7 linked regions of the Homo sapiens genome follow. The protein of the gene in region 1 purifies or fractionates together with the protein of each later gene. This does not show direct contact. Each region holds a gene or a part of one and is shown on either strand. Other genes may lie near its edges. The genes, in order: EDC3, ALDH18A1, DENND1A, LRFN1, ZBTB21, SRSF12 and ZNF638.

Region 1 (3,483 bases):
AAGAGGGAACCTATTACTATTCTCCCAGGCTCCTCTGCTCTAACCAGGCTTCTGGGACAGTATTAGAAAAGGATGTCTCAACAAGTATGTAGATCCTGTACTGGCCTAAGAAGTTAAACTGAGAATAGCATAAATCAGACCAAACTTAATGGTCGTTGAGACTTGTGTCCTGGAGCAGCTGGGATAGGAAAACTTTTGGGCAGCAAGAGGAAGAACTGCCTGGAAGGGGGCATCATGTTAAAAATTACAAGGGGAACCCACACCAGGCCCCCTTCCCAGCTCTCAGCCTAGAGTATTAGCATTTCTCAGCTAGAGACTCACAACTTCCTTGCTTAGAATGTGCCACCGGGGGGAGTCCCTGTGGGTGATGAGGCTCTCAAGAGTGAGAGTGGCATCCTATCTTCTGTGTGCCCACAGGAGCCTGGCCCGAGACTTAGCAGGTGAAGTTTCTGGTCCAGGCTTTGCCCTTGACTCACTATGTGACCTCTGGTGGAGTCCCTTCTCTGGGCCATATTTGCTCTCTCCAATTCTTCTCCCTGCTGTTCTCATTTAAACCCATTCCAGTCAGACTCTGTCCCTACCACTCCACTTAAGACCACTCATCAAGCTCACCAGGAGCCTCCACAGAGATGCTAAATCCAGTGGTCGATTCTGTCTTCCTTTGACCTTAACCTAGAACGGGGCTTGCTGACACACTGACCACATGCTCCTTTCTTCACTTGGCTTTCAGCTACCATACTCTCCTGGTTTTCTTCCTCCCTCACTGACCATTCCTGTCCCATCTCCTTGGTTAGGCTCTTTACTCCCTGACTTCTAAATAAAGAGCTCAGTTTTCCAACTTCTGTATCTACTCTCTTCCTATGTGACAGCATATCCAGGCTCCTCATGGCTTAAATATTCCCTATGGCTTGTAACTCTAGGCTGAATCCTTTCACTTCAGATTCATATAACTCGTTCCCTATCAACATTTCCACCTGCATATCCAATAGGTGTCTCAAGCTGAGCTTCTGCTGTTCCTCCCCAAACCTTCTCTATCAAGTTTTCCCATCTCAGTGATCGCACCTCAGTTACTGAGGCCAAAAACTTTGGAGCCATTGCCAACTCTTCTCTTTCTCCCACCCCCCATACATCCAGTCTGTGGATTCTATCTCCAAAACTGATTTAGAAACTAACTACCTTCACCACCTCTGGCACTACCACTCTTGTCTTAGCCACCATAATCTCTCTCTCCCATGATCACAACAGCATCTTGACACTTCTCTGTACTCCTCTGTGTAGTCTACTCTCAAACAGCACCCAGAATGATCATCTGGAACCTAAATTTGATTATATCATTTCTCTACTTATTCCTTCAATGACTGCCCATCTCACCAGAGTAAAAGCCCAAATCCTTGTGGTCATCCCCAAGGCCCATCATGACCTGACCCTGAAATGTCCAAGTCTCCTACTCTCCACCCAGTCCTCCAACATGCCTCCTTTCCCTGCTTTGTTTTTATCCACATCACTTACTACAACTACACAAGTATGTTACATGTCTTTTTGTTCCTCCTAACCAGAATATAAGCTCCACAGAAGAATGGATTTAAAAAAATCTGTTGCCATATCCCTAGCATCAGGAAGAGTGCCTGTTCAACGAATATTTGTGGAATGGACCAATGGGTCCCCAGCTCTTCATGTGAGTAGTTGGAGAGGGAGAAGCATAAGGGGATGGGAAGTAGTATATTACTGTTCTAAGACTCCTTAGAGGCGAAGCACCATCCTTACACACGTAGTGCCTTTCCACCTGTCGCCACTGGGTGGCATGACGAGACCATCAAACTGCTAAGGAGGGAGGAGGCCTTCAGCCCAGCCCTGCCTAAGTGCTCACCTTTGAGGCTAGACACTTGTTGGCCTTGGGTCTTGCTGAAGAGCGACAGCTCATTGGTGATAGATTCCAACATCTTGACAAAATTGGGCAGGAAAAGGATGACCTGGACATCATGGTTGGCTAGGTGCCTTCCACAGCTGATACCCTGAGCCCCCTTCACATGAGGTCCACACAGTAGAGCCACTGTAGGCCTCTGGTGAACATTTTTGGGATTCAACCTGGAAAAGAAGGTGAAGAAGCAGTATCAGCTACATACTTGCCAATCCCTTGCACCCTATACCAGACAATTGCCTGTAGCACCTATTGGTCTCAGATCTCTTACCCACTGCTCACCAAGTCCCAGGCTCCAGAGGGGGACAAAATCCACTGCAGGCCAGGTCTATAGGGTGGCACTCCTGTTGTCCCAAACCCCAACCTCACATCATTGCTGGGTCCTCCCACTAAGTGGTTCACCCAGATCTTGCTCCACACAACACTGTTGCCACAACACCGCTTTGCTGACCCATGAACACTTAATAGTTCCTCTGCAGCCTTGTCTGCTCTTCTTCCCCAACGTGTCTGCTTCACTCCAGCAGGGCTGGTCTCATCCTCTCCTGCACTTGTAAGGCTCTTTCCTGCTTATGCTCAAACTACATCCCCTGCCCAGAAAGCCTTTCACTTTCCAAACTCTGAACCGCCTTTTCTTGGAGATCCAGTTCAAGACTTACCTCTGCTGGGATTACTCTGGCTCATGCCTTTACCTCTCCTCAACTCCTAATAAGCTCACAGCAAGTACCATAGCTCTCCATTCTCCTCAGTCAGTTGCCAATGGTTCTCTTTACTGAGCTTAGTAGCTTACTGAAGTTAATGAAAGCAATGCTGCAGGCATTAACAGTATCTATTTCATAGGATGCTGTGCAGATTATCGGATGCCCAGCACTTAGCAGTGCCTAACACAAAGAAGGTAAGGTACTCAGTCAGTGCTGACCATGGCGGAGGCAGCAGGCCAAGGGTTACCTGGCCTCCTAGGCTAGCAGCTGCCTTGGATGAAGTTGTCACTTCCAGTTTTCTGCTATTCAAAGCTGAGACTCCTCTAGACTCAGAGAAGCCACAAATAAGGAGATAAAGAGGATTAGCCCCAGAGCTGTGCCCAACTCATAGGCAGCACAGTTGGCTCACGGGGCAGCAATGTAGGGAGGAGATGGACGGCAAGGCCATAGGTCCCTGCCTAGTGGCAGAGCAATGATAGTCACTTACCGGTTTCCCAAAGGGAGGAAGATGACAAGATGTTGTCAAGCTAAGAGGAGCTTCATAACTGCCCCCATTCCCAAACACATTTTGGAGAATTTAACAATCTACTCTATATTCCAGACACCAAACCATTCGCCTTCCCATTTCTGCATTTAGAGGAAATATGATGAGAATTGCTCCCTTCAGAGGATGCTGCAGAGTTGTGGAATCTGACTCACTTTGTTCTCTAAAAGGGTTCTTCCTCTCAGGGAGAACCTCTCCCACCCCCAATCAAAAGAAGCAGAGCATGGCATTCACACACCCAGCGGCAAGGTGTAGAGTATATGGGCACTGGAAATGGACCTATGTGGATTAGAGGCCTGGCTGGACTGTGTACCAGCAGTATC
Region 2 (3,500 bases), on another chromosome or scaffold:
ATCACCTGTGTAAAATAACATCTGTGCATGTAGTGTACATGTAAAATAATATCCATAATATAAAATAACAGCTATTTTACATCTTTACAGGTAAAGGAATTTCAAAATAAAATAATTTGGGAGTTAGATTTTTTTTTCAGTTGTTTCCTGAAGTGACTGTTATTGAGATGTCTCTAGTGTGTAGTTGTACAGTTGATTAAGAATATAATTCAAAAAAATTCAGGAGATTTAGGTAAAAATGAAACAATGTAGAAAGAAGGTTCTAGAACATTTAGGGGTAGCCACCAAAAATTCGTAAGTCCCATGAGGACTGGAATCATGTCTGATTTGTTCACCACAGTATCCCCAATGCCCAAGACTGCTAGGTACACCATAGGTGCTCAATAAATATTTGCTGAATGAGTGAAAAACCAACCAATCACCAGCATTCCTCTTTCCCTTCAAAGCTTAATAAATATCTGCTATAAAAGGCAACCAACCAGGTGCAAAGAGAAGCAAGCCACCTGAAATCAAAGAAGCCAGTGAAATAAAGACATTTAACTTCTCTGTCTTCAGAAGTGTTAGCACTTGGAATCCTAAGTTATTAGTGTAACAAGAACTGATATTTACTGACAATGTATTATGTACCAAACACTATACTAAATGCTTTTCATATATTTTCTCACTGAGCCCTTCCAAAAATTATCTGAAATAGGCACTGATATTATCCCCATTTTCAGATGAGGAAACTGAGGCACAAAAAGGAAAAGAAACTTTCTTCAGATCTCAAGTAGCAAGTGATGAAGCTGACACCATATTCCAATAGTCTGGCTCCAGACCCCTTTGTTCCACAACAACCACCCTCACAGGTCCCACACCCATTTCAAAGCCCAGCCTCTCACCTGGGCAGCACAGATGCTGTACTGGGTAAACATAGCCTCATACAAGGCCATCAGCCCACTCTGTCCGGCAGCTGCACAGGCTCGTGCCTCTAAGACTGGAATTGCCTGTAATATACCAATGAGACAAGGTGTGGTAGGGAATGAGGGAAGAAGACCTGAAGATCCATTTCAATGTGTGGGGAAGCAGCACTCACCATTTCTTTCAGCTGGTTCTGCCCCGAGTGGAGGGCCTGCCGCACGCTCTGAGACAGAAGGATCTCATGGCGCAAGCGTTGTTTGCCAAAGGCTACGGCTCCACTGGTCACCAGCATCATCTCTCTGCCCTGATTCTGCAGCACTGATACCTGGGCATTGAGAAAGGAAAGGGGACTGTAAGTTACCGTACTGTCTCTTTCATCTCTTCACAAGGGATGGAGGTAGGGTGGGCTATCGAGTAGATCCCAAATGCTGGTTTATGAACCAGCATGTGGCTGGCTCTGGAAGAATCAGCCAGATTGGTAAAAACACAGATTCCTACATCCTGTCTCAAATTTCTATTTAGCAGGTGGCAGACAAAAATCAGACATTTTAATTTATTTTTTAATTAAAACAATTGGCTGGGCATGGTGGCTCATGCCTGTAATCCCAGCACTTTGGGAGGCCAAGGCAGGCACAATGCCTGAGCCCAGGAGGTTCAAGACCACCCAGGCAACATGGCAAGACCCAATCTCTACAAAAAGTACAAAATTTAGCCAGGCATGGTAGTGCATGCCAGCTACTTGGGAGGCTGAGGTAGGAGGATCACCTGAGCTCAGGGAGGTTAAGACTGCAGTAACCCATGATCGCACCACCACACTCCAACCTGGGCAATAGAATGAGAGAGATGCTGTCTCAAAAACAACAACAACAACAACAACAACAACAACAACAACAACAACACCCTAAGAAAAAAATTTTTTTAAGGCAGAGTCTTGCTCTGTCGCCCAGGCTGGAGTGCCGTGGCATGAATGTGGCTCACTGCAGCCTTGGCTGCCTAGGCTCAAGTGATCCTCCTGCCTCAGCCTCACAAGTAGCTGGAACTACAGGCTCATGCCACCATGCCCAGCTAATTTTTCTTTTTTAACACATTTTTGTAGAAACAGAGTCTCACTATGTTGCCCAGGCTGGCCTCAAACTTCTGGTCTTAATCCATCCTCCTGCCACGGCCTCCCAAAGCATTGGGATTACAGACATGAGCCACCATGCCTGGCCTAAGTAAGACATTTTTAATGAGGAAATTCTGGTGTGTAGCCAAGTTTGACATCTATAGGACTTGACTGTATTAGGTTGGTGCAAAAGTAATTGCAGTTTTACCATTGACAGTAATGGCAAAAACCACAATTACTTTTGTGCCAACCTAATATTTGCAGGGAGTGTGTAATGCAGAAGGCCTAGTTCCTCCAAGAAATGAAGCCCAGAATAAAAGTCCGCAGGTAGGAAATGCAACGCAGACTCAGTAGATGGCTTCTCAGGTTCTAAGGCTTAACCCGGGTAAAGGAGGCTGTTCTGGTGGCATGTCTAATCCTATGGGTTGCCTCTGCCTACACCAGGGGCACATGCTGACCTTGTTCTGCTCTGTCTGCCCAAGACCAAATGCGGTCACTTTGTTTCCTACCTTAAGCAGACCTACATGAAAAAATTAAAGACTCAAGATGTAATAAAGTCAATATTCCTAAACTGTCCTTTCCTTCTGATGTCTGAAACCTTTTAACTGGTCCAGCTGTTTAACAAACAGCTATGATAAACCATGATTTAAAACAATAATAACTTTTTTTTTTTTGAAACACAGTCTTGCTTTGTCACCCATGCTGGAGGACAGTGGCACAATCATGGCTCACTGTAGCCCTGACCTCCAGGACTCAAGCAACCCCCTGACCTCAGCCCCTTGAGTAGCCACCTTGGCTTCCCAAAGTGCTGGGATTACAGGTGTGAGCCACTGTGCCTGGCCCCGACAATAATATTTTATCACAGAAAGTTTCAGCTGGCTGAGGTGGGACGACTGCTTGAGGCCAGGAATTCGAAACCAGCCTGAGCAAAATAGTAAGACCCCATATCTATGAAAAATTAAAAAAAATAATAGCCAAGTAGCATGTGCCTGTAGTCCCAGCTACTCAGGAGGCTGAAGAAGGATCCCAACTGAGCCCTGGAGTTCAGGGCTGCAGTGAACTATGATTACACCACTGCATTCCAGTCTAGGTGACAGAGCAAGACCCTCTCTCTAAAATAAATAAAAAGAAAAAGAAAAAGAAAATTTAATACTTAACCAAAGTGCTGAGAATAGTATTATAAATCCCCATGTACATACCACCCAGTTTCACCAACTATCTCTCATGGCCAACTTCCCACTCTCCAATAACCCCTCTATACCCTCACCATTGTTTTAATACAAATTCCAGGCAACAGACATGTTATTTCATCTGTAAATAGCTCAGTAATAACTGCTAAAAGATAATCATATATATTATATATAATATATAATTATATGTCTTTCTCTCTCCACAAATCCATTATCTGGAATATTTCAATGATTTCCTTCATATCAAATAGCCAGTGTTCATATTTTTCCAATTTTTTTTTACCTTGCTCAAATTGAGATGCAAA
Region 3 (3,500 bases), on another chromosome or scaffold:
GCAATATCATTGGCCCAGCTGACCTCTTTAGTGCAAAACCCAATCAAGGGTGCCGAGGAGAGGCAACCGCGGGGTGGGATGGGCACTCAGGAACTGGGTTGATTCCCAGGCTGGAACTGGTGCCATTCCCCAGGGCCAGACATCAGAGATGGGCAGTGTGGAGGGGAGGAGGGGGCAGCAGAGAGGGGTCCCATCCCTTCCCACCAGCAGAACCTGGGCAGAGAGAGAGTGGCGGGGGAGCCTCGGAACCGCAGCAGTGGACGGACCCTCGGGCCTCGGTGCATCCCCCACCCTCAGGGCCCGGCTCACTCGAAGGTCTCCCACTGCTTCCTGAGCTGCTCCACCGAGTCTGGGGCCGGGGCCAGGGCCGGACTCGGGCTCACGTCTTGCTTGGTTTTCTGTAACAAATCCTCAAAGGGGTCTCTGGCCTGTTGAGGAGCAGAGGGCTGCAGTGTTGGCTCCAGGCCTTGAGGGGGCCTGGGAGGCAGAAGCGGGGGGTCTCCAGGCCTCAGGGCCAGCCCCTGCTTGGTCTCAGCAGCCCTGGCACTTGAGCGGGCCAGGGGCAACGTTCGGATCCTCGACGGGGCAACTGCTGGGGGACCCAGCGGCTGTAGGGGGCTCGTGTGGGTGCCCATGGGCATCTGGCCAAAGAGGTTGGGCATGGAGAGGGCGGAGAGGTTGGGCTGAGACCTGTGAGGGGCACAGAAGCCAGCACTGGACAGCAGGAGGCCGGACGCAAAAGCCGGCCCCAGGGAAGCTGGAGGGGCCCCGAAAGGCCCGGCTGGTGTGGAGACCAGGGGCAGGGTGGGTGGGGCTGCTGGCATGGATGGGACAAAGGGGTTGAGTGGTGGCTGTGGGAATGGGGTGGGTGTCCCTGCAGGGGGGAAGCTGAATTGGGGGGTGAATGGGGTGGCTACATTCGGGGTGGCGGGGCGTGACGGGAGGGTGCTGCCTGACCAGGCTGTGCTGAGCGGGTCCAGGAGGGCGAGCAGGGCGTCACTGCTCGTGCCTGCAGCCCCGGGGCCAGGGCTGAGCGGCTGGAGCAGTTCAGTGGGGCCTTGGGGGACAACACCAGGCAGGAGCCCTGGACTCAGGGCAGCTCGCCTGTCCCGATCCGTCTGCAGCCGCTCTGAGACGTCACCAAGTGCGGCGCCGGCAGCCTGGAGCTTGGCCGGGCGGGGAATGGGCGGTGGAGGCACGATGCCCAGCTCTGGGGTCTTCCTGCCTTGGGGCCGGGGGATGGTGATGCTGCCCAGAGTAGGGGTGGGCACCTCCTCCTTGTCACTGGGGTTCAGGATGCTGTCCCGGTTCTGGGGCCTTCGAGGCAGGGCCAGGGAGTTTCCGAGCAGGGCTGAGGGCTTCTCAGGGGAGGCAGCTGGGGGCTTGCTGGGGATGGCCATGTCGTCCTGGCCCAGGCTCCAGAGCTTGTTGTACGGGTGGGTAAGCTTCAAGGCCACTGTCACCCCGCGGCTCCTCTCACTCCCGCCCAGATCCAGCCTCTGTTGGGAGGGAAGGAGGGCGGCAGTGACCACGGGCTGAGTTGGGACATATGTGTGCCCATTCCCACACCACTTCTGTGTGCTGAATGTGTGCTGGGCCTAGTTGTGTGGCTGATCAGCTCCTCGGACTTGGAACAGCTGAGGGCTCCCCCAGGTTACCAGCAGAGGACCCACGTGTGCTGGGACTCCAAGCCTGTGCTCCGGGAACTCAAGACAAAGCTCTCGTCCCTTTATGCCAGTGGCGGTTGCCAAGGAGTTTTAGGAAAGTGACTCCAGCTACCGGCTGGCCCTTTTTACTTTTTAGATCGCAGGCACCCGCAATCACCTGTAAGCCCGGGGGCGCGAGTGAGACTCAGGGCCTGGTAGGAGGCACCTTGGCTGGGGAGGAAGGAGGAGGCCAAGTTGGAGTCCTGGCTCTGCCACTTGCAAGCCACACGGCCCGGGTGCCAGTCCCTTTCTCCTGGCCCAGGTCCTCGTTCCCAGCAGGGAACACTCATGAATGACTGGAGCTCTGTGAACCCCACGGTGTGACCCAGTGATGCAAAGTCAGAAGACCCCACTTGCAAGTGAGGAAACTGAGGCACCGAGCGGGGATGTGATGGATTAGACGTCACAGTGGGAATTACACACTGATTTGCATTCATAATGCAGAGCCAAGAACTTGCATCCACAGGCTCTGCCAAGGAGCCCTGGCAGGGATGGACGCAATCCCGGTTCCAGCAGGGGCTGCAGCCCTGCCTGGGGGTGCGAGGAGAGTGGCTGGCAGCACCCGCCCCCCCGTCTGATGCACACACAGAGTGGGGCAAGTTTCCATCGGGCTCTAGCATCTTCTCCTACCGTCACTGTTAGGGTGGTGTGGGCCCCGGCACCCTGGGAGGTGTTTACAGTCACACTGACCCTGAGCATTGGCTGAGGGTCTTGGAAAGTCACTGTTTCTCCCTTAGTCTCTTCCACTGTCACATGGGGATCCCACCTCGTGTGCGGACAGTGCCGGCCCCCGGCCGATACCCTCCCTTGCCCATGCCATACCTGATAGTCAAAGGTCCCTGGCTGCTCCCTCAGGTCTTTGGGGGCACGAAGGTCCTCTAAGCTCTTGGCCTGGCCCAGTGGCTGCAGTGCGGCCTCCATGTCCAGGTTGCTGAAGACGTCTTCCAGAAGGTCGATGCTGGCAGCCCGGTCAGGGGGAGCTGGGACAGGGCCTGTGGACTTCCGCACTTGCTGCTCTGGACTCTCTGCCTCGTCGCCTTCCGCGCTGTCTGACTCCCTGAGTGTCCGATACGGCTGCGGCCTGTCGGGGACAGAGCAGGCTGCACTCTCCCACCCAGGCCTTCAGGGGAGGAGCAAGCGGACTCCAGCCCAAGCACATTGAGGGCTTGAGGGGTGCACGCAGGGGCCTGCGGGACAGGAGAGTGTCCCGGGGTCTCCGTGAGGGCAGGAGTCTGGGAGGCTGCGAGGGTGCAAGCTGGGCATGCCGATGGGCCTGGGGCTGTGAACCAGGGCAACTCGCTTTGGCTCTCACTTGCACTCAGGGGACCCATTTAGTGCCCCCCAAACTACAGGTCCTTTCATAAAACTGGCTACTGGGCTTGTGAGCCATTCAGACAAGGTGTGAGGAACAGACAGGACTGGAAGGGGGCTCACAGGCCAGCAGTCATGCTCCTCTTGCTCCCGCCCTGCTCTGCTGTTTGTTTGGTGGCCTAGGCACAGCCACAGTCAGGTTCTGTGAACAGCCCATGGGGAACTGGGCTGGGGAAGCTCTCCAGGGGAGCTGTCTGGGCCTAAGCTTGCCCTGCTAACCTTGGTTCCACCTCTGGTCATGCTATTTCTTGCTGTGGGACCTTTGGCAGGTCACTTAACTCTCTGAGCCTCAGGTGCTCAGGTGGTGGTGGTGGTTACATGAGCAAATGCGGTGCCCGGCACACAGCAGACACGCACGGGTTGGTTACAGCATCCATCGCCCACCAGTGAGCACGGCTGTCACACAGGCTCTTCTGCTAGCAG
Region 4 (3,500 bases), on another chromosome or scaffold:
CTCCCACCAAAAGACTTCCAATCAGGGCCCCGCCCCTTCATAAAGGTCCACCCACTTCTCCAACTCCACTCTACCCACCCCTGACTGCCATTTCAAAGACCACTGCCACCCACCCCAGCCACCCTCGGCTGCCCTGGCTTTAAGCCTTCCTCCTCCTCTCTTCATCTCTCCTCTCCAGAGCCCTGGATTCCACTTGCTCCTTCCCCTAAATAGCCAGTTGCTAGGGGCTTCCCCCACCCCTTTTCAAGGACAGAGGCTGGCTCCTTAAGAAAGCTTCAGCCCAAGTGTCTCTAATTGGCTGCAGAATTAAAGCAAGCAGCTAAGCAGGCTTCTGGTTGGCTGCCACCTCCGCCCATGACAGCGTGAGGAAGTTAACCCCTGCGGCACCATAGCATAGGAATCTGCAATGGGGGTTGGAGAACTGGAACTGGGGCCCTACAGGGAAGAGAAGAGTCCCAGGGTCTGTTGCCCAGCTGGGGACAGGGGGCCATCAACATCTGCATCCATGCAGGGTCTGGGGGCTTGTGAACCTCCCCCACCCCACCATGTGGTGGCCATGGCTCAGAGCAAAGGAAAGAGAGGGACAGAGAAGTGGAGAGTCACAGAAGCTCAGAATTATTTACAGAAATATATTATCCATCTCCCTTCCAAGCAGTGGGTGCCCAACAAATGTGTGTCAGTGTATAAAGGACAGCTTTGCTACTTTCTGTGTGACCTTGGGCAAGTGACATCCCCCACTGAACCTCAGTTTTTCTGTCTTTGAAATGGAGAGGGGGTCATCACGCCTTCATAGCGGAGCTGGGAAGATCAAGCTTGGAAGTTCGTTGTGAAGGTTTGTGTTTTGTTCATTTGTTTGTCCTCATGTTTGTAAGGCTGGGCCAGGATCTAACCTATCTCAGTAGGCCCAGGGCCCAACACAAGATGGGCACACAGTAGGCATCTACTCAGTGTTTGGGACCAGAATCAAAAAGAGAGGGAAATGAGGAAGACAGAGACAAAAGAAAAGGGAGGCTTTTTTTTTTTTTTTTTTTTTTTCCAGAGGGAGTCTCGCTCTGTCACCCAATGGCGCAATCTCCGCTCACTGCAACCTCCGCCTCCCAGGTTCAAGCGATTCTCCTGCCTCAGCCTCCTGAGTAGCTGGGATTACAGGCACGTGCCACCACATCTGCCTAATTTTTGTATTTTCCGTAGAGACAGGGTTTCACCATGTTGGCCAGGCTGGTCTTGAACTCCTGACCTCAAGTGATCCGCCCGCCTCAGCCTCCCAAAATGCTGGGATTATAGGCATGAGCCATCGCGCCCGGCCAAGAGGCATTTTTTTCATTCAACCAACACTGGGAAAGCACCTACTATGTGCCACACCTATGGCCAAGAAAACACTGGAAAGGCAGAGATGGAGGCCAAGAGGCAGGTTTCTCGGTGAAGATCTGACAGCCAGGAGCTGGGGCTCTCCACAGGTAGGGAAACAGCTCCAGCCCCGCTGGCATCTCCAGGTGAAGCCAAGCAGATGACTGAAGCATTTAACTGGTGCTCTACAATGTGCATGAGGGAGGCAGAGCTAGAAGGAGAGACATCCATGTGGCAAACTACCATTTATCAAGTGCCTACTGTGTGACAATTCTGTGGCAGAGAGCCATACTAAAAAACTACCAAGATGGGCCAGGTGCAGCGGCTCACACCTGTAATCCCAGCACTTTGGGAGGCCAAGGCAGGAGGATCACTTCAGCCCAGGAGTTCAAGACCTGTCTGGGCAATATAGCAAGACCTCATCTCTACTAAAAATTTTTTTAAATTAGCCCAGTGTGGTGGTGCACACCTATAGTCCCAGCTACTCTCAGGAGGTAGGAGGATTGCTTGGAGCCCAAAAGTTTGAGGCTGCAGTGAGCTATGATCATACCACTGCACTCCAGCCTGGGGTGACAGAGCAAGACCCTGCCAAAAAAAAAAAAGAAAAAGAAAAAAAAAAACTACTGAGATGGAGAGACATGGCAAGGCCAGGACTGCAACTCATAGTGTACTATGGACCACGACCTACTGGGCTATAAGCTCCCTGAGGACAGGGTCTGGGTGGTTTCCCTGTGTCCCCAGCACCCAGCTCAGGAGTTTGCACAAAGCAGGGGCTCTGTGCCTAACGAGGGCAGAGAAGGTAGAGACAGACAGAGAGGTGAAAGGAGAAATAAGGAGGCGATGGGAGAAAATAACTCTTTTTTTAAAATGTCTGTTGACACCGTATGGTCTGTCCCCACCAGGGCAATGGCTTCAAACCCAAGTGAGGGTGGAAATAACATATTTTTCTCATACGTTTTGTTTTCTGTTTCTGTAATGTACCCAATGTGTTGGTTCAGTAGTACTGGTATATAATTTATAAATATAAATGTCGCTGTAGGCTAGGCACGGTGGCTCACACCTGTAATCCCAGCAATTTAGGAGGCCAAGGCAGGCGGATCACTTGAGGTCAGGAGTTCAAGACCAGCCTGCCCAACATGGTAAAATCCTGTCTCTACTAAAAATACAAAACTTAGCTGGGTGTGTTGGTGGGTATCTGTAATCCCAGCTACTTGGGAGGCTGAGGGACGAGATTCGCTTGAACCCGGGAGGCGGAGGGTTTCAGTGAGCTGAGTTCGTGCCACTGCACTCCAGCCTGGGCAATAGAGTAAGGCTCAGTCTCAAAACAAACAAATAAATAAATGTCACTGTAAATGTGTGTGTGTGTTTCATGCTCCAAAATGTTTAACTGAAGAGGTGCACAATCAGATTGTTGTGGGGAGCAGTGATATCGACCATGAGCCCCATGAGGGCAGGGTTCATGCTGAGCTCAGTCACTGTTAGGACTCCAGTGCCCAGCCCTGGTCGGGTTCATGTAGGTGCTCAGCGAATATTTTCTATAAGCACGAAAAACAGAGACAGTGAGAAATAGAGAGAGGAGACAGGGCAAAGGAGGGCGGGAACAGCTCTCACAGCCATCTAGAACCCTGGCTGAGCAAGAAGGCCAAGGGAATGGGCAGGTGGGAGGGAGGGTCCCCCTGGGCTTGGGAGGAGGCCCTGGGACTGCAGCACCCGCACCCACCTGTAGACGAGGGAGTCATCAACGGAACTGTTGTACTGAACCTGGTACATGCGTATTCCGGGCACAGGCCTCTGGGCTGGCCAGCGGATGAGCACGGAGTTCGAGGTGAGCTCGGCTGCCACGAGCCGACGCTCAGCCGCAGAATCGTTGGCACCTGGTCTGCCCGGCGTGGCGATGTCAGAGGAGCCGGGCTCGGTGAGAGGCGGCGGGGCAGCCGGCGGGGGTGCCATCAGAGGCAGAGGTACCACGCACACCTCCACGGGCGCCGTCGCTTCCCCAGCAGCATTGGAGGCGATACAAGTGAAGGTGCCACTGTCCCTCAAGGTGGTGATGGTCACATCCAGCGTCCCGTCCCCCCGGACCCGGGTCCGGCTGGAGTTCCCCAGCAGCCGCCCATCAGGTGCCACCCAGTGCACCACCGGCTCGGGGTCAC
Region 5 (3,500 bases), on another chromosome or scaffold:
ATCTGGAAGTAAATGGTAATTTAGAATTTTACATCAGCTGTGCTAATTCTTGAGTGTCTGGGATCTATGTAAATATATGTCCCGACCTTATTTGTTACACTAATGTTAAAATCAAAATTAGTGCCATATGGTTAGCTTTGTTTTTTGTCCTAACTACACTCAGATTTTCAATTTGTGACAGCATAAATCAGAGGAAATGAAATATGTGCAGTCCTTCAAATGCTGGTCTGAATTTAGACTGTGGTGCAGTGTACATGTAACATGGTACAAGTTTTTATAACAATGTCTATCACTACTGAAGCCCTTATAAACTGACTGTAGGGGACTTCCATAAATTGTTTTCATTTCCCAGGTCTTCCTTAGAGTTTAACTATCATTTATTATATTGACTGAGAGCAAGTTTTTGTTAGTTTATAAAAATCTAAGTGTTACTATTGCTGATTTAAATTTCTCACAATTTTCATACAAAAAGAAGTTTTACATGACCACAAAATACCAAATATTTATTTTTATCAAGTGTCAGGATAACTTATTAAAGTTGAGATTTATCTTTTATTGCTAAAGTAGTCTAAGATATAAATCAATACTGCAAACTACTCCACTTCTTCCTATTTTGGACTTAAGAACATGGTTAAGATTTAACTAGAACTCAAGTGTCTAAAATAATTAAAAGAAGGAATACTTCGACAGTATTCCACTAATCAATAAAAAACCAAAAACCTCAATTAAATGATTATACTGACACCATGGAATGAGGAACCATGCACACAATCAAGACTAATCCAATTTCAACATTAATGAAATCAAACCATCTTGTTCTTGTAAGGTCCAGAACCACAATATTTTAAAAGCTGTATTTCTAAAGTTAAGGACATTACTAAGTAATTATCAATTTGCCTCCAACTTAATTTCAAGCGTAACAATCTCCAACCTTTATTATTCTTGTTTAAAAAATATTTTGTTTCTTATGACACATTTCACAATTCAGGTTGAAATCTGGGGACTGCCTCCCATAGGTAAAAAGTGTTGGTCTTTCAATTGTGTGTTTGTTCGTGACTCCAAAGACTAAATGCAGTCTTGAATGTCCTGTGGCAAAGTTTACACATAAACTGTCTTTTAAATGTGATTGCTGAAAGGGGTGGGGCATGGTAAAAAAGGGTGTCTGATTCTTGGGGCACAAACAGTTTTTCTGTGGCTGGAGTTGGGTTTTCGGACAGGCCTGTGGGGCTGTCAGGCTCCAGAGGCTGGATCTTGGGCAGTGGTGGTGGCGGTGGCAGAGGTGGTGGAGAGGGAGAGTTTGTGGGAACAGGGCACACCTCAGATTCCTTATGTGCCGATTCCTCTGAAGCCTGAGACATGTGCGATTGGAAGTGACTCCAGAGTCGAAAATTAGTGCGAAAAGCTTTGTTGCACACGTGACAAATAAATGGTTTCACAGAGCACAGAAGCTCCTGGTGACGCTCCAGCTGCTTATGCACCGTGAACATCTTCCCACACTTCTCGCAGGGCCACAGGCTGGCTTCTTTGCTAGGACCCGCTTCTTTGGGGGCTGTGCTGGCCTCGGGTGCCTCTTCTTCAGCCTCCTCCACAGGCTCCTCTTTGACTTGGATTTTCAGTTGCTTGGAAAGACTAAGGTCTTCGGGAAGACAAGAGGAATCTTCCGAGTCGAAGTTAACTTGTTCTGAAGAATCACTGAACACGTTGTCGTCTTTTGTGGTGACGATGTGGTTTACTTTGTTGGGCTCAGGCTGGGATTGGGGCCTTGAAGAACCAGTCACATCACCATTGTGGTCCAAAACGGGCAAAGAAAAGTTTTCGGTGGGTGCCATGTTGTTCTGATTATGGACTTCAACCTGGTGCCGCCAGATGCTGAAAGAGGACTTGAAGGTGCGCATGCACTCGAGGCAGGTCAGCTTCTTATACTCACACTTGCTCTCGTGTTCTTGCTTCAGCTCGGGCGAGAAAAACCTGAGGCTGCAGTAAGGGCAGACGGCCGCGTTCCGGCACAGCCGCTCGTGGCTTCCTTGCTCTAGGAGAGAAGAGAGCTTAGCATTACAGAGGCGGCACTGGTAAACCTCCTTGTTTTCTACTGGACTTGCAAGAGGAGCATGCTCTTTTGGTTTAGCAACTTTATTTACTCCAAGGGGTTTTTCTCCTGGATGCATTTTTATATGCTGCTTAAATTGAGAGAGAAAGCGGTACGCTTTTCCGCAGTAAGTACAAATGTAAGCTCCTTTGGCTCGAGATCTCAAGTTCCTCTTGATGACTTGCTGTGCTTGGGAGCTACTCTGTCCCTGAAAACCAGGCTTGCCGCGCCTTAACTTAATGATCAGGGCCTTCTTAATTTCTCTCTCTCTCACTATGTCAATCAGCTTTCTTTGGAATTTTTCATCCAAAACAGCATGTGAACTAGAGGCTGGTGATGGGTTCTTCACTATGCCGTGTTGGGTCTGACAGTGTGTCCACACTTTGAAGTTGGTGTGAAACCTCTTGTGACAGATGTCACAAGCGTAGGGCTTTTCTGGGTTATGGTACATGTTAACATGACGGTGAAGACCTGCTGTTGATCTAAAGATCTTAAGGCAATGTTTGCATTTAAATTTTTTGTTTGGTCTCGTCCCCTCCAACTCACCAAATTCGTCTTTATTCAAATCAGAATCTGGAAAATCTGCATCAAGGAGAGTAGGGCTTGAGCCTTCCTCAAAATTATCTTCTGACACAGGAGACCCGTGCTCATTCACCTTTAACTTCTTAAACGGCAATCTTCGGTCCGCTTGGAACCTCCTTTTTGCTGGGAGTCTGCTCATGTCTTTTTGGTCATCTTCTGTTTTCAGAGACAGGTCTCTTGTGACCGACGAAGATGAGGCAGCTGCTGTTGTTGCCGCATCTCCCACAGTGACGCGGATGATGTCCGAGGGGTCCGACAGCGGGCTGCTGGGCTCAGTCTTTATGCGCACCTCAGTCACAGGGGAAGCTCCCTCCCTGTCTGTTGACTGAGAAGCACTAAAGGACCTGAGGCGATGCGGTTGTAGCACTTGAGGCCTGTCATCTAGGGCTGTTTTTTCACTACAATCTTTTAAAGATGACTTCTGAGATAAAGCACACAACACATTCCCTGGTGCATCACTGGACACCGAAGATGATCCCTGGGAAGATTTCAAATCTATGGAAGGTGAATAGACAGGAACCTGGCTATCCATCGACAATGACCGTCTGAGGAGACTCTTAACAAGTGGGCCACTCCTGTCAATGCTTTGGTTTCCAGAACCAGATCCACTGGATGGGATCACTAAGCCTAACTTTGAATAGTACAACAAGTTTCTATCTTCACCTTGACCATTTCCTTTGTTAGTTTCTTTTAATAGATAGGGAGTCTCTGATGAGCTACAAACAGACAAAACAGGTGGCCGTGGTCTCTTCAAAGCCAGCTCTAGAGCTTTTCCTTTTGGAAGCTGACCACTCACACCTGGTTTATCATCCATAGCTTCTCTGTCTTGCAG
Region 6 (3,500 bases), on another chromosome or scaffold:
GCACCCCAACCTGGGCAACAAGAGAAAACCTCCAAGACAAAAAAAAAAAAAAAAGAAAAGAAATAGTTAACTAAAAGATCATTAGAAAAACATCCTACCGAAATACAGTGTGAGAAAAGGAATTTTAAGAAATCCCTAAAAGAACACAGCAGATGTATAGCATACAGTCACACAAGCCAGAGGAAAGACTGAATAAGGCAGAAGCAATATTTGAAGAGATAATAGCATAGAATTTTACAAAACTAACAAAAAGCATTAACTCACAATTTCAAAAAGCTCAATAAACCCCACATAGGCAAAGAAAACTACACTGGGCACATCACAGTGAAACTGATGAAAACCAAAGTCAAAGAAAAAATCTGAAAACCGGCCGGGTGCGGTGGCTCATGCCTGTCATCCCAGCACTTTGGGAGGCTGAGGCAGGTGGATCACCTGAGGTCAGGAGTTCCAGACCAGCCTGGCCAACATGGAGAAACTCCGCCTCTACTAAAAATACAAAAATTAGCTGGGTGTGGTGGCGGGAGGCTGAGGCAGGAGAATCGCTTGAATCTGGGAGGCGGAGGTTGTAGTGAGCCGAGATTGTGCCACTGCACTCCAGCCCAGGTGACAGAGTGAGACTCTGTCTCAAAAAAAAATAAAAATAAAAATAAATCTGAAAACCTTGCCAGAGAATGAAAGACAAATTTCTTTCAAAGGAGCAACCACAAGACTGACAACTCACTATGGGTATCAGAAAAACAATGGAATGACATTTTTAAAGAGAAAAATAAAATCACTGCCAATATAGAATTCTATCCTCAGCAAAAATATTTCTCACAAATGAATTTTAAATAAAGATGTTTTCAGACAAAAGCTGAGATAATTCACTATCAGCAGATGTGTACTATAAGAAATACTAAATATTCACTGCCCTGGTACTTCTCGGTGAGCTGAAAGAGGAAAAAAAGAAATACTAAATATTCTTTAGACTGAAGAAAAATGATACTAGATAGTAACATTGAACTAGATGAAGAAATTTAAAAAGCTTTCTTTGGAGAATGATAACACCATGTAGAGCCTCTTCAATTTTTGGTTTTGTTTGTTTGTTTCTGAGACAGAGTCTTGCTCTGTCACTCAGGCTGGAGTGCAGTGGGGCGAGCTTGGCTCACTGCAACCTCTGTCTCCCGGGTTCAAGCGATTCTCCTGCCTCAACCTCCCAAGTAGCTGGGATTACAGGCACGTGCCACCATACCTGGCTAATTTTTGTATTTTTAGTAGAGATGGGGTTTCGCCATGTTGGCCAGGCATGTCTGACCTCAAGTCACCTGCCTCAGCCTCCCAAAGTGCTGAGATGACAGGCATGAGCCACTGCACCTGGCCTCTCTTGAATTTTTTATTATATATTTATACTGAAAATACATTGATGTAGAATATATTCTGGAATAAATTCACAGTCTTTTAGAAATTATTAAATTTCATTCATTTTGTAGACAGCTGTAGGAAGCAAAATGAAGAAAATGTCCTTGAAAAAAAATCCTAACATAGTAAAAGAAGGACGCTATAATATATTTGGACTAAAGAAAAGGGAGTTGAGGAGCAATTTTAACACTGTTCAGGAACATTTAGAGTTCTAACATACACATTCCTTGATATAAAGTTAACAAAGATTTACAGAATACCTTTTTTTACATTTTAATAATTTATTTATTTATTTGTTGTGAGACAGAGTCTTCCTCTGTTGCCCAGGTTGGAGTGCAGTGGTGCAATCATGGCTCACTGCAGCCTTGACCTACTGGGCTCAAGGAGTCCTCACACCTCAGTCCACCCTCTCCCTCCCTCCCAGTAGCTGGAACAGGTGTGTGCCACCACACGTGGCTAATTTTTTTTAGTTTTTGTAGACATGGGGGTCTCACTATGTTGCCCAGGCTGGTCTCTCAAATTCCTGGACTCAAGTGATCTCACCCTGGCCTCCCAGAGTGCTGGGATCACAGGTGTGAGCCACTGCACCTGGCCATAAGACAGTTTTTAAAATGAGAAAAACTGGTGTCAGGGAGGTTAAGCAATGGTCTTATAACAAGTACAAAGCAGAATAGCATTGCCCTGAAAGATGTGGTCCTTCCATCCCTGATACTCCAGGATGATTTGAGACAGTCAAGTATTATACTTTACTTCCACTAGAAGGCAGAAAATGATGTGAATATCCACCTTATTTAAATCAAGCAAGAGAAAAAAACTGGTTCACTAAGGCTGTAATGCATTTAGAAACAATCAATTTAAATTCTTTTTTTTTTTTTTTGAGACAGAGTCTCGCTTTGTCACCCAGGCTGGAGAGCAGTGGCGTGATCTCAGCTCACTGCAACCTCTGCCTCCCAGGTTCAAGCGATTCTCCTGCCTCAGCCTCCCAAGTAGCTGGGATTACAGGCCTGTGCCACCACACCCACCTAATTTTTGTATTTTTAGTAGACACGGGGTTTCGCCATGTTGGCCAGACTGGTCTCGAACTCCTGACCTCAGGTGATCCGCCCCCGCCCTGGCCTCCCAAAGTGCTGGGATTACAGGCGTAAGCCACTGCGCCTGGCCTGAATTTTTAGTAGAGACAGGATTTCACCATATTGCTCAGGATGGTCTTGAACTCCTGACCTCAAGTAATCCACCCGCCTTGGCCTCCCAAAGTGCTGGGATTACAGGCGTGAGCCACTGCACCTGGTCCATATAATTAATTTCTGTTGTGATTCACTATTATTCTAATAGAAATAAACTCCTGGCTAGCAAAATAAATAACTTGAAAATATCTTTTCCCCTGCCCCCAAATTACTATTTAATATGTCTTCTTCAATACTGCCATACTTGGAATTTATTCTTGATAACTTATCTTTTATAAGTAAATTGATTTACATTAACTTTAGTCAACCACCTTTCACAAGGGATTTTATTATATTTCTTTTTTTTTTTTTTTTTTTTTTTTTTGGAGAGACGGAGTCTCACCATGTTGGCCAGGCTAGTCTCAAACTCCTGGCCTCAAGTGATACTCCCACCTCAGCCTCCCAAAGTGCTGAGATTATGGCACCTGGACATTTTATTGTATTTCTTACACATTTAAACATTTTTAAAGTTGAAGATTACAAACTGTTGGGCACATTTAGGAAAATTTTATTTATCTAAAACTCATCACCTTTTTTTTTTTTTTTTTTTGCTTTTTGTTTTGAGACGGAGTCTCGCTCTGTCGCTCAGGCTGGAGTGCAATGGCGTGATCTCAGCTCACTGCAACCTCCGCCTCCCAGGTTCAAGTGATTCTCCTGCCTCAACCTCCTGAGTAGCTGGGATTACAGGTGCGTGGCTACCACACCCAGCTAATTTTTGTATTTTTAGTAGAGGCGGGGTTTCATCATGTTGGTCAGTTTGGTCTTGAACTCCTGACCTCGAGATCTGCCCACCTCAGCCTCTCAAAGTGCTGGGATCATAAGTGTGAGCCACTGCACGCGGCTGAGTATGTATTTTTTTTTACTTTTTTTTTCTGCTCA
Region 7 (3,500 bases), on another chromosome or scaffold:
CACTTGTGAATTCCTTGAACCTGGGCATTGCAAACCCACTTCTGTTGGGCCCATCTCCTTTGCACTTTGCTCAGATTAAGACTCAGTTGGCGCTTCAGCAGCTGAATGCCGTTGCCTCACATGGTTCAACACCACCTTATACTTTATTAAATCAGGCTTTCTTGAAAATAGCCATGTCGAGACCCAGGTTTAATCCTCGAGGAGACTTTCCACTTCAAAGGCCACGAGCACCTAACCCTTCTGGGATGAGGCCTCCAGGACCATTTATGAGGCCTGGATCTATGGGTCTCCCAAGATTTTACCCAGCAGGGAGAGCACGTGGAATTCCACACAGATTTGCTGGCCATGAATCTTATCAGAACATGGGGCCACAGAGAATGAATGTTCAGGTAACTCAACACAGAACTGATCCAAGATTGACCAAAGAAAAACTGGATTTTCATGAAGCACAACAGAAGAAGGGGAAGCCTCATGGTAGCCGGTGGGATGATGAGCCTCATATATCTGCATCAGTGGCAGTGAAACAGAGTTCTGTAACACAGGTTACAGAGCAGAGTCCCAAAGTACAGAGCCGCTATACAAAAGAGAGTGCCTCAAGTATCTTAGCAAGTTTTGGATTATCTAATGAAGACCTAGAAGAACTTAGTCGCTATCCTGATGAACAACTAACTCCTGAAAATATGCCATTAATTTTGAGGGATATAAGAATGCGAAAAATGGGGCGCCGATTACCTAATTTACCTTCTCAGAGCAGAAATAAAGAAACACTTGGTAGTGAAGCAGTTTCAAGTAATGTGATCGATTATGGGCATGCAAGCAAATATGGCTACACAGAAGATCCACTTGAAGTACGTATTTATGATCCTGAAATTCCAACTGATGAGGTCGAGAATGAATTTCAGTCACAGCAGAACATTTCTGCATCTGTTCCCAATCCAAATGTGATATGTAATTCTATGTTTCCTGTTGAAGACGTATTTCGCCAAATGGACTTCCCCGGTGAGTCCTCCAATAATCGGTCCTTTTTCTCAGTTGAGAGTGGAACCAAGATGTCAGGCTTACACATTTCAGGAGGACAGTCAGTCCTTGAACCCATAAAATCCGTCAACCAATCCATTAACCAAACAGTTAGCCAGACAATGAGTCAATCTCTGATTCCTCCATCTATGAACCAGCAACCTTTTTCGTCGGAATTAATTTCATCTGTAAGCCAGCAAGAGCGGATCCCACATGAACCTGTGATTAATTCATCTAACGTACATGTTGGATCAAGAGGAAGTAAAAAGAATTACCAGTCACAGGCTGACATTCCCATTCGGTCTCCCTTTGGTATTGTGAAAGCATCCTGGCTACCAAAGTTTTCACATGCTGATGCCCAGAAGATGAAGAGACTTCCAACTCCTTCTATGATGAATGATTATTATGCAGCATCTCCAAGAATATTTCCACATTTGTGTTCTCTGTGTAACGTAGAATGTAGTCATTTGAAGGTGAGTGTTTTTAAAAAAAGATCACTGTATAATGATGCTCAGCGCCAGTTTTCTCTAAATTCTGATATGTATGCTGCTTGTTAACTAGGCGTTAAGGAAATGGCAGAAGGTAATTTTAATTGCAACCTCAATACATAGTTGTAATCTTAAGTAGCCCTGGCCTTAGTACTGAATTGAATTTTAGGCTTACTGTATTCCTATGACCGGGCACACCATATTTTAGTAGTGTGTCCATTTATTTTGAACTTTTAGTTATCCCACTTACGCAACATAAAATTTATGTAACATAAGCTGCGTACTTACAAGACAATGTCACATGGAATCACCTTTCTCTAAAAGGATCTGTTAGTATAAAAATACAAAGAGATGGTATAACCCATTTGTAATGCACACATTTAAGAGACAGTATATTATAGCCTTGCACATATACACCTGTCTTGGGATAAAGACAATTAATGTTGATTTAAATATTTCCTGACTTTATGTAGACTAGTGATTTTTAGTATTTTTTGAGAAGAAGCTTTCTAAAATAACTTCATAGCAAAAATAAGTCAAGGTGCAGTAATTATTCTGGGACCAGCTGTGGACTCAGAAAATAGTGTAAAATGATAGAAATTTGTAGAGAAAAATCTTTAAAAAATAAAGATGATTTAGGTAGTTTGATAGTATAGTTAGAAGGAAGTATTTTGCAGAGGCAGTGAAGTGTACTATAATGTAGAACATACTGTTCAGTCGTAATCATTGGTAGATTTGAGCAGGAATTTCCAAGTAAATTTTATTTACTTACGTATGGTTGGCAATCACTGTTTCTTCTATTTACTAATGTGATTTATAGATTTAGATTGTAAAGGGTCAGAAGAGAATATACTAACATGGGAAAAAGCTTTGATTCAAGGCCATGGCCTGGAATTGGTTGTATACTTAGGCTTAAAAATCTGTGTGTTAACGCTCTTGTTCTTTTCTTCCAGTGCTGCCTTTCGATTTTCTTTTCATTATTTACTCACTAGGTTTTCGTCAACATGAATCTGATAATTAGATCTGTTGGTATTTTCTTAAGGTTAACTCCAGCAAAAGAAAGCAGCATTCTACCCCATTTTAGCCAGATGTGCCAAATTCTATTAAAATAATAGTTGCCTTATTCCATCAGAAGGGATAGCAAAGTCCTTACAAGGGAAAGTCTTAGAATAATTCATATCACCTAATTGTAATCTGTAAGTAGCCCTGGCCTAAGTAGTGAATTGAGTGTTTGTCTGTATTCTTGTGACTGGGCATACCACATAATTTTTTTTAATTGATTTTGAACTTTTAATTAATCATAATGAATCCAAGAAAATACATCTTTAAATAAAGAACTTGAAGTTTTGTATTCTGTAGAGTAGAAAAGGTGTACATTTAATTTAGTATGTACTTATGGATACCAGTTTTGTACTTGACTCCAATTAGGTACTGGGGCAGAAATGAGGAACTGTGTAAAATTTTAGATGTTATTAAGCAGTTTATTCAGTCTTATTGGGGAGAAAAATTATGCTCCCAAGACATTTAAAACAATTAGAAGACAACAAGTGGTTTTGTGATTGATTTAACTTGTTTGGATATGCTGTAGGGGACAGAGATTTCTGTCTTGATTTCAGGCATGTATCACTCAGGCCAGCATCATCAATTTACCAATTTAATCATTACCAATTTGCCAATTTAATTATTTTAACTATTGTATTTGTAACAGTATGTGTTTAAAAATAAGTATAAATATGCATCCTGACATCAAAAGACTTTTATAGCCTAGTTAGACTAATGGAATGTCAGTTACTAAATGCACTAAGTCTGTCTTGACTAGAATGATGTGGGAGAGAAGACTTCATGGAGTAGGTTGAAGATGGGTCTTGAATTGAGGCTTTAGATATGCCTGTATAAAGAGGAGGAGGGGGCCGGGCACAGTGGCTCACTGCCTGTAATCCCAGCACTTTGGGAGGCCGAGACAGGTGGATCACCTGAGGTCAGGAGTTCAAGACC

What was found.
Region 2: the proteins of EDC3 (region 1) and ALDH18A1 purify together in Homo sapiens (affinity purification with mass spectrometry; one large-scale study listed by BioGRID and IntAct). This does not show direct contact.
Region 3: the proteins of EDC3 (region 1) and DENND1A purify together in Homo sapiens (affinity purification with mass spectrometry, with the first as the bait; one large-scale study listed by BioGRID). This does not show direct contact.
Region 4: the proteins of EDC3 (region 1) and LRFN1 purify together in Homo sapiens (affinity purification with mass spectrometry, with the first as the bait; one large-scale study listed by BioGRID). This does not show direct contact.
Region 5: the proteins of EDC3 (region 1) and ZBTB21 purify together in Homo sapiens (affinity purification with mass spectrometry, with the first as the bait; one large-scale study listed by BioGRID). This does not show direct contact.
Region 6: the proteins of EDC3 (region 1) and SRSF12 purify together in Homo sapiens (affinity purification with mass spectrometry, with the first as the bait; one large-scale study listed by BioGRID). This does not show direct contact.
Region 7: the proteins of EDC3 (region 1) and ZNF638 purify together in Homo sapiens (affinity purification with mass spectrometry, with the first as the bait; one large-scale study listed by BioGRID). This does not show direct contact.

The regions. Positions count from the first base shown.
Region 1 is NC_000015.10:74,633,542-74,637,024, forward strand, and holds part of EDC3 (enhancer of mRNA-decapping protein 3), read right to left. Parts: intron 2,086-3,483; coding exon 1,868-2,085; intron 1-1,867. UniProt on the Homo sapiens protein: Binds single-stranded RNA. Involved in the process of mRNA degradation and in the positive regulation of mRNA decapping. May play a role in spermiogenesis and oogenesis.
Region 2 is NC_000010.11:95,636,212-95,639,711, forward strand, and holds part of ALDH18A1 (delta-1-pyrroline-5-carboxylate synthase), read right to left. Parts: intron 1,226-3,500; coding exon 1,076-1,225; intron 987-1,075; coding exon 882-986; intron 1-881. UniProt on the Homo sapiens protein: Bifunctional enzyme that converts glutamate to glutamate 5-semialdehyde, an intermediate in the biosynthesis of proline, ornithine and arginine.
Region 3 is NC_000009.12:123,381,127-123,384,626, forward strand, and holds part of DENND1A (DENN domain-containing protein 1A), read right to left. Parts: intron 2,788-3,500; coding exon 2,529-2,787; intron 1,500-2,528; coding exon 306-1,499; 3' UTR 1-305. UniProt on the Homo sapiens protein: Guanine nucleotide exchange factor (GEF) regulating clathrin-mediated endocytosis through RAB35 activation. Promotes the exchange of GDP to GTP, converting inactive GDP-bound RAB35 into its active GTP-bound form.
Region 4 is NC_000019.10:39,310,864-39,314,363, forward strand, and holds part of LRFN1 (leucine-rich repeat and fibronectin type III domain-containing protein 1 precursor), read right to left. Parts: coding exon 3,068-3,500; intron 1-3,067. UniProt on the Homo sapiens protein: Promotes neurite outgrowth in hippocampal neurons. Involved in the regulation and maintenance of excitatory synapses. Induces the clustering of excitatory postsynaptic proteins, including DLG4, DLGAP1, GRIA1 and GRIN1.
Region 5 is NC_000021.9:41,989,861-41,993,360, forward strand, and holds part of ZBTB21 (zinc finger and BTB domain-containing protein 21), read right to left. Parts: coding exon 1,035-3,500; 3' UTR 1-1,034. UniProt on the Homo sapiens protein: Acts as a transcription repressor.
Region 6 is NC_000006.12:89,101,072-89,104,571, forward strand, and holds part of SRSF12 (serine/arginine-rich splicing factor 12), read right to left. Parts: intron 1-3,500. UniProt on the Homo sapiens protein: Splicing factor that seems to antagonize SR proteins in pre-mRNA splicing regulation.
Region 7 is NC_000002.12:71,348,782-71,352,281, forward strand, and holds part of ZNF638 (zinc finger protein 638), read left to right. Parts: 5' UTR 1-173; coding exon 174-1,490; intron 1,491-3,500.